3 separate regions of the Homo sapiens genome follow, and regions 1 and 2 are each linked to region 3. The links come from fine-mapping of genetic effects on gene expression. A gene starts in region 3. Each other region holds a variant in brackets. All regions are shown on one strand. Distances are between the middles of the regions.

Region 1 (2,759 bases), 47 kb after region 3:
ACACATTGTCTTCCTCCTAGAGGAAGGCAGAAAAGGGAATAAGTACTAAGCAGAGGCCCAGGATGAGGGAAATTCTCCTTCCCCAGCTTTCATTGAGATGTGGAGACCCTAGGACACCCTGGAAAGTCCCTCCCAAGCACAGGAGTTTGGAGAGACAAATTTTTAATATGGATCAAGGTTCAGAAAAGTACTGGGGCCTACTATTAATAAATCCATATTTTGGAATTATTCACACAGTGATTTAGCTCATGCTCCAGAATGTTTTCACAAGAATATTCTCAGCATTAAGAAAGATCTAGAACAAACTGATGGTGTATCAATGAGAGCCAAGTAAATAAATTATGGTAAGAAAATTTCTGTATGAAAATCATTCATACAGAAAAATGCACTCCTTTGGAATTGTGGAGCAATGACTTTATTTACATGCAAACTTACTGGTATAGTTATATATTAACAAAGATCAGAAAATAAAAGGTTTGATTGGACCACATTATTTAAATCTACGAATACATATCAAGTATAGGTGTTTGAAAATGGCAGCATTGGCCAGGCATCGTGGCTCATGCCTATGATCCCAGCACTTTGGGAGGCCGAGGCAGGCAGATTACCTGAGGTCAGGAGTTGGAGACCAGCCTGACCAACATGGTGAAACCCGTCTTTACTAAAAATACAAAATCAGCCGGGTGTGATGGCCCATGCCTGTAATCCCAGCTACTTGGGAGGCTGAGGCAGGAGAATCGCTTGAACCTGGGAGGGGGAGGTTGCAGTGAGCCGAGATCACACTATTGCAATCTAGCCTGGGCAACAAGAGCAAAACTCTGTCTCAAAAAAAAAAAAAAAAAAAAAGAAAAGAAAAAGGCAGTAGTTCAGCCAGGCATGGTGGCTGACGCCTGTAATCCCAGCACTTTGGGAAGCCAAGGTGGGCGGATCACCTGAGGTCAGGAGTTCGAGACTAGCCTGGCCAACATAGCAAAACCCTGTCTCTACTAAAAATACAAAAATTAGCCGAGTGTGGTGGCACATGCCTGTTATCCCAGCTACTTGGGAGACTGAGGCAGTAGAACCGCTTTAACCTGGGAGGCCGAGATTGTGCCCCTGCACTCCAGCCTGGGTGAAAGAGTTAGACTCTGTCTCAAAAAAAAAAA[G/A]AAAAGAAAAGAAAAGAAAAAGGCAGTATTCCAATAGAAACCCCAAGTTCGTATCTAGGTTTTACACATGGACACATGAAATACATTAAACTGGGTCATTCCTAACTGGTACTCAGAACTCACCCTACCACCACCACCTGACCTACCTCAGGGAGGGGGTGTGCACAGACCAGCCAAAATCTGCAATCTTCACCTCACCCCTGAACCCCAGCAGCAGGTTCTCTGGCTTAATATCTCTGTGAATCACTTTCTTGTCATGGCAGTAGGTCAGGGCATCTGCCAACTCCTCTATTATCTGTGGGTGCAAAGAAAAGTCACCCTGGAAGTGAAGCCTGCCACAATTTCCGTCTGAGGTGGAACACTTACCATGAATTGTATGATTACAGTGGAATCTTTTTGGTCCAGTAACTCCATTTCCTCCTTTTAAATTGCACCAGTTACTGGTGTGTGGGGTGTGGTTTTCCTCTCCTTTTTATGTGGTCTTATAGGATGGATGGTAACATGGACACAGATCCTCCCTGTTGTCCTAGCACAGCAAGTAGCCAGACATAGAACCTACATTGAGCCACTCAGATGATCTCTCACAGGACTTGAGGCCCGAGGAAGTGAAACAGAAACAGGAGGAAAGATGGAAGACCACTCATCCTGACACAGCAAGCTGATTGGACCATTGCTCCTGGGAAAATCATTGCCATGGTTCCCTTTCCGGAACCCTCTAGAAATCTCTTTGTACCTATCTCTAAGCCAGTTCTAGCTATTTATTCAGTGAACTCCTTCAGAGCCTTTCAATATGTTTCTTTACATAAGGCAGTGGAGTTAGATTCTGTTGCTTATAACCAAAGAATCCAAACCTATACGCAGTACTTATTAATATTCTGGAGATACAATGAGGTTAATTAGGGTATCCAAGGATAAAGCTGTAGAACATACGTGCCATTATATTAAATTTACACAATAACATTCAGAAGTAAACTTCTCAGAAGGCAATGCGGACCCTCCTGACAGCCACAAACAGAGCTCCCACCAGCCCACAGTAAACTCAGAGACCCCAGAGCCTCCAGACCCGCACCTCACCGTGGCTGTGCGCTGTTCATCTAATTTCTCGCTTTTCTGCAGCTCCTTGTAGAGCTCACCCCTTGGAGCATATTCCAGAATCAGGTACACCCGGCGTGCATCATGGAAATAGTTATACAGGCGCAGGATATTGGGGTGTCTGAAGGATTAATGTTGGAAGAGTCAGATTTCTCCCTGAGGCCTATCATATGATGCCACCGTCACTGCCTGGTCACACAAGTGGCAAATTATGCTGGGACCAGAATAACAACAGCCCTATCTGGGAGCAAGTGAGGGGAGAACGGAGAACAGGAACCAGGATTCGAGTGTCTGACCCAGGGTAGGAGGTAGTGTAAATGGAATGAACTGCAGAGAAGTCTTCAAGGTACAAGTGCAGGGTTTACTTGGGGTTAGTATTTGGGGAAAATGCTGGGCTCAGACGTCAAAGATGAAAGAGGAAGCAGAGACTGTCCTTACTGTAGATGAGCCTGGATCTCAATTTCCCGGCGCAGCTGGTGCTCCAGTCCTTCCTTCTCTATCTGCGACTTGAAGAGAACCTTC
Region 2 (2,759 bases), 34 kb after region 3:
CACGAGCACCAGAGTGGGTGGCAGAGGGTGGTGACGAGGCAGAGATGTGAGCTGGAGGATTCATCCTCAGGGACCAGCGGCCAGGATGAGGGGCAGGTCAGTGACTCCAGACCCCAGCATTTCACGAACCATTAAAATATTTAAAGACTGAACATCCTACTGTGATATGGTGACATAAGGATATTTACAGAAACTTCATATAGCAGCGCAGTGGCTCGCATCTGTAGTCCCAGCTACTGGAGACGGTAAGGTGTGAGGATCGCAGTGAGCTATGATCTTGCACCACTGCACTCCAGTCTGGGAGACAAGAGTGAAACTCCATCTCAAAAAAAAAAAAAAAAGTTCACAAGAGAAGAATTTTTTCTACACAAAAACATTCAGTGATAGCTTCATAAAATGAAGGTGTTTCATCTGTGCTGAGTAAGTTAAACTGGATGAGGGACTCACAGGAGTGGCTAAATTTTCCTTACTTTGCTGAGGACAGGGATCCTGTGAGAATAAATGGAGCATGAACACTGCCTGGAACAGGCCTGAGACACCCAATCAGTGCTCTGGGGATCTGGACTGTTAACTGCTTTTCTTTTTTTTTTTTTTTTTTTGAGACGAAGTCTCGCTCTGTCATCAGGCTGGAGTGCAGTAGCGCGATCTCAGCTCACTGCAACCTCCAACTCCCTGGTTCAAGTGATTCTCCTGCCTCCACCTCCTGAGTAGCTGGGATTACAGGCATGCGCTACCACACCCAGCTAATTTTTGTATATTTAGTACAGACGGGGTTTCACCATGTTGGCCAGGATGGTCGCTATCAACTGACCTCGTGATCTGCCTGCCTTGCCCTCCCAAAGTGCTGAGATTGCAGGCATGAGCCACCATGCCCGGGCTGCTTTTCTTAAAAGTGATCCACTTTTTATTTTTCTTAGATTTCTTCAAAAATGGAATCCTTATCACTCTGGTAAATGGAAAATCCAGAGTCACTTGTCTTGATGGCAGGTAACCATGAAAATGTAGCAATAAATCAAAACAACGTATACAAAAATTAGCTGGGCGTGGTGGCACCTGCCTGTAATCCTAGCTACTCAGGAGGCTGAGGCATGAGAAATGCTTGAATCCAGGAGGCACAGGTTGCAGTGAGCCAAGATCAAACCACTGCACTCCAGCCGAGGCAACAGCGAGACTCTGTCTCAAGACAAACAAACAGTGCTCTTTGGTCCCTGTGAGCTCATGCTGCTTGTTCAGGGCTGTGAGCCTAAGGCTGCTCCCTCTGTAGAAAAGGGGAAATTACCAACAGTTTGCAGGACGTTAAGTCTCAGCACTAAACCAGAGTTTTCCTCAAATGCTAAGGAGACAAGACGAGAAGAAATAAAAGAACAACTTCCTC[A/G]AGTGTCTCTCAGCACCAGCTGATGTAGTGTCTGTCCAAGCACTCTCTGAAAAAGAGCTTCTCGCCTTAGCACAATTGACATTTAGGTCCAGGTAATTCTTTGTTTGTGAGATCGGGGGAAGAGGAGGAGAAAGGATCTGTCCTGTGCATTATAAGGATGTTTAGCAGCATCTCCACCCACTAGCTGTCAATGTTATCATCTTAGGTTTTTTTTTTTTTTGAGATGGAGTCTCGCTCTGTCGCCCAGGCTGGAGTGCAGTGGTGCAATCTCAGCTCACTGCAAGCTCCGCCTCCTGGGTTCACGCCATTCTCCTGCCTCAGCCTCCCGAGTAGCTGGGACTACAGGCACCCGCCACCACGCCCGGCTAATTTTTTGTATTTTTAGTAGAGACAGGGTTGCACCGTGTTAGCCAGGATGGTCTCTATCTCCTGACCTTGTGATCCGCCCATCTCGGCCTCCCAAAGTGCTGGGATTACAGGCATGAGCTATCGCACCTGGCCCATCATCTTAGTTTTAACAACCAAAATGTCTCCACACATTGCCCAGTGTCCACTGAAGCTCAACATCGTCCCTGTTTGAGAAACACTAGCTTAGAAAGACATTAAAAAGGTAAAGGGAGGAGGCTATGGTGAGAAAGGGGCCTCCCCAAGATTCGGTGGTCAGGGAAGGGCTGGGTGAGGAGGCAAGTGGTGCTGAGAAGGGGCGGCCATGTGAAATGCTGAATTACCCTGAGAACACTCATCAAAGAGAACAGCAAATGCAATGGCCTGAGGTGGGTGGGCACTTGGGGAAATAGCAAGAAGCCCAGCAAGGCTGCAGCAGAGTGACTTTAGAATCAGAGGATGTGAAGGTGATTGAAGGACGTGAAGGTTGTTTAGAATAACACCTGGTGGGACGGAAGGTCAATGTCTCCTTGGGGCCTGCCTGACTCAACCCTTCTTAGTGAACATCCCACCAACCCTTACACCACAGACTGGGCTGTGGAGCAGATACATGAGCAACCAGGCCCACCCAGGCAGATCCCGCTCTGGAACTCAAAAAAAAAACTGCAGACAGAGGCCAGTCTATGCTGGGCAGTGGGTGAGAGATGGAGGCAAGTATGAGCTGGAGGTGGAGCAGCATTTGCTGCCTCAAACACGCCCCACAGAGGCCAGAGAAACAGACAAGAAATCTGGAGGGGAAGGAGGGGTCACAAACAGTAAAACCTGGGGTGGTTACTCTTCCCCTGAACTCGCTGAGGCAGAAAAAACCATACAGAGTAGACAGTGACATGAGCAGACCCAGACAGAGAAACCAGGACCCCATCGTGGCGGTTCTCAGTTCCTACTTCAACCCCTCATAACATACAGCTGGCAATCCTACCTTTGAGGTCTGCAAAACACC
Region 3 (2,759 bases):
TGTTCCCATTACATCCTTGACAAACTCAAATCCACAAGCTTCTTTAATACCATCAGATTATCTACACAAAAATACCAGACTCTGGGCAAGGGTGTAAGGTGCCACTTTAGCCGGAATTGCCAAAAAAGGCACCTCCAAATAGGTGACACCTGGACAGATGCCAAAAGGATGTGAAAGGGAGGCCCTGCAAAGTTACAGGGGCAGTGTTCGAAGTAAAAGGAAGTGCAAGGAGAAAGCCTGGAAAATGGAAGAGGACTGCACGGTCAGGTTGGTGGCTCTGAAGAGCAAAGGACCAGGGAAAAATGCAAACAGACAAGGTCAGGGGTGGTTGGCCAGGTGGATGGGGTACGGGCTGGCAGGCAACAGAGAAGGTTGGATTTAGGGGAAGTGTGATGAGATCCCTAGAAGGAAGCATCACTCCTTCAACCACGGACTGAACACCTATCAGAGGCCAACACTGTTGCAGGACTGCGGATAAAGGAAATGACAAGCCACGGCCATTTCTCTTAAATAAACGATGGCGACAAAGAAAAATCCTGTGGCTGTCTTGGCTTCCAGCCTGCCCACGAGGCCTCTAGAAATAGCACAGCAGCAGCAAGGCCGAAACCTCGTCCACTCACCTGCGCCGGAGCCATCCACGCCGCCGCCATCCCGGGAATGCCGCGGATCAGCCGACCACAGCCCTTCTCTGTCCTGGGCGGGGCGACCTCGGCTGACTTTCGCACTCCGAGCCTCAGTTTTCCCCCGAAAAAAATGCGCACAAGGCCCAAGGCGCAGCGTCGGGGCTGAGGAGACGGAGGGCGGCTGCGGAGGCCTAGGCCTCGGCGGGCGCCGGTGGGACACCTCGTTAGGGGAGAAGCGGGGCGTCAGGCTCCCGCCAAGACGCGAAGAAGGGGCGTAACCGCTTCACTACCCGTCCCTGCTCAGGCCGCAGAACGCGCCCACCCAGCGCTCTAGGCCCCACACTGTTTCAGGGCCAAACCGGCCCACGGAGATGACGTCACACGAAGAAGCGGAAGTCCCGCCTCCGCCGCCCTGGCCCGCAGAAAACTCTCCTGTCCTGGGTCGTCAATGGCCCAGAGTCCGCGGCCGACGCAAGGGGCAGTGCCTTCTGGGTAATGCAGTTTTTCCCTTACATCTACCGGGTGTGGGAACTCACCCAGCGCATCCGACTGCACGTAAGTGCGCACCAGAACCCCCGCGTCGTCTTAGGGCCACCGCCTTAGTATAGGCACAAGTCGGAGGGTCGAAAGGTCCCTTCTAGCTCAGGAAAATCGAGGTCAGGAGGCGGGGATATTCGCCCCGATTCAGACCCCGAACAAAGGTGCTTACCCTGCTGTGGGCTGGGCCCGCGACTTCTCGCTTGCTTTGCCTCTTTTCTGGATCTTTTCATAGAAGAAAAGGATAAATGAGCAGTTAAAATAGCCACCCAAAGGAGGACGCCTGACAGTGTGCCCAGCCTGCTGGGAAAGGACAGACCGCCCTCTATTGGGCCTCCTTTGGCCGGGCCCAGCCTTCGTAGGATGCAGGGACTTCCGGGTGATGTAATAGGCTTCGCGTTCGCCACGTGTGGACTTCCCGTACCCTGAGGTGGGGAGGCTGCTAGTGGAGCAGGCTTGCCGGGAAGCCCAGTACTCCCATTTCAAGCATGATCAGTTTGAAACGTCAGTAAGACCACAAAGCGTAGTGCCATATACTCAACCTATGATTCAACATTGGCAGAGGGTTCGAGCGTGGATATATAAATTTGGGAGTTATTACTGTAAACTGTTACTTCAAGTCATGATATTGGGTGAGGCTATGAAAAGAATGAGCGTAGATGGATAAGTGACGGGAAAGAGGGGAACCCTGGCCCAACCCAGCATTAACTGGTTGCAGACAGGAGAGTTTATAAAGTCTTGTTAGGAATTTTAACAATCCTAGACTATGCAAAGATTATATTATGCGAAGTCTTAGGAGTCCCCATCAGTAACTTTTTTTTTTTCTTTTCATGACTATGAAAGTGAGAGAATAAAGTCCAGCTTTCAATGGTTTGACGATATATATGGTTAAGGAAATAGAAAGGTGTGCAGAAAGTACTCTCCAAGAGATTTAATTTTGAGATTGAAAATAGTCAAGGAATGGAGATGGAGTCAATTTCCTACACGATGCGGTACTTTTGGAGAAATATTTTTGGCTAAATTAGTGTGCAAGGAACACTGTTATTCATCACTGGCAATAGTAATTTTTGAAAATTGATAAAGACATCATTCTCTTTTTCACATATTTGTGACTCTTAAATTTTTTTTTTTTTTTTTTTTTTTTGAGATGGAGTTTCACTCTTGTTGCCCAGGCTGGAGAGCAGTGGCACAGTCTCCACTCACTGCAACCTCCGCCTCCCGGGTTCAAGCGATTCTCCTGCCTCAGCCTCCTGAGTAGCTGGGATTACAGGTGTGCGCCACCACGCCTGGCTAATTTTATATTTTTAGTAGAGACAGGGTTCTTCCATGTTGTTCAGGCTGGTCTCAAACTCCCGACCTCAGGTGATCCACCCACCTCGGCCTCCCAAAGTGCTAGGATTACAGACGTGAGCCACCCCCTCTGGCCAGACTCTTATAATTAAATTTAAATGGTTTTTTCAGAGGCATATGAACCAGAGCAACTCTATCTTAAATAGGAGCTGGGTAAAATGAAGCTAAAACCTACTAGGCTGCATTCCCAGACAGTTAAGGCATTCTGAGTCACAGGATGAGATAGGAGGTCAGCACAAAATACGGATC

What was found.
Region 1: its variant is fine-mapped to the expression of ZNF460-AS1 in whole blood (TOPMed, PIP above 0.99).
Region 2: its variant is fine-mapped to the expression of ZNF460-AS1 in whole blood (INTERVAL, PIP 0.92).

Annotation. Positions count from the first base shown.
Region 1 is chr19:57,232,141-57,234,899 of GRCh38, reverse strand. It overlaps AURKC (aurora kinase C), which reads right to left. Exons shown (of 7, transcript NM_001015878.2): 3 at 2,676-2,759; 4 at 2,220-2,358; 5 at 1,292-1,440; 6 at 1-16. Among named protein-coding and RNA genes, the nearest start is that of AURKC, 2.5 kb to the right of the region's middle. The variant G/A (reference allele first, on the strand shown) is at 1,146.
Region 2 is chr19:57,244,615-57,247,373 of GRCh38, reverse strand. The region is part of intron 2 of ZNF805 (zinc finger protein 805); the gene reads right to left. Among named protein-coding and RNA genes, the nearest start is that of ZNF805, 5.4 kb to the right of the region's middle. RefSeq lists an enhancer at 1,039-1,333. The variant A/G (reference allele first, on the strand shown) is at 1,376.
Region 3 is chr19:57,278,698-57,281,456 of GRCh38, reverse strand. ZNF460-AS1 (ZNF460 antisense RNA 1) reads left to right here and starts at 1,123. Exons shown (of 3, transcript NR_136529.1): 1 at 1,123-1,178. It overlaps ZNF460 (zinc finger protein 460), which reads right to left and starts at 972. Exons shown (of 3, transcript NM_006635.4): 1 at 621-972. The coding sequence starts at 650. RefSeq lists a silencer at 67-116 and enhancers at 539-1,130, 514-1,713, 1,131-1,722, 837-1,776.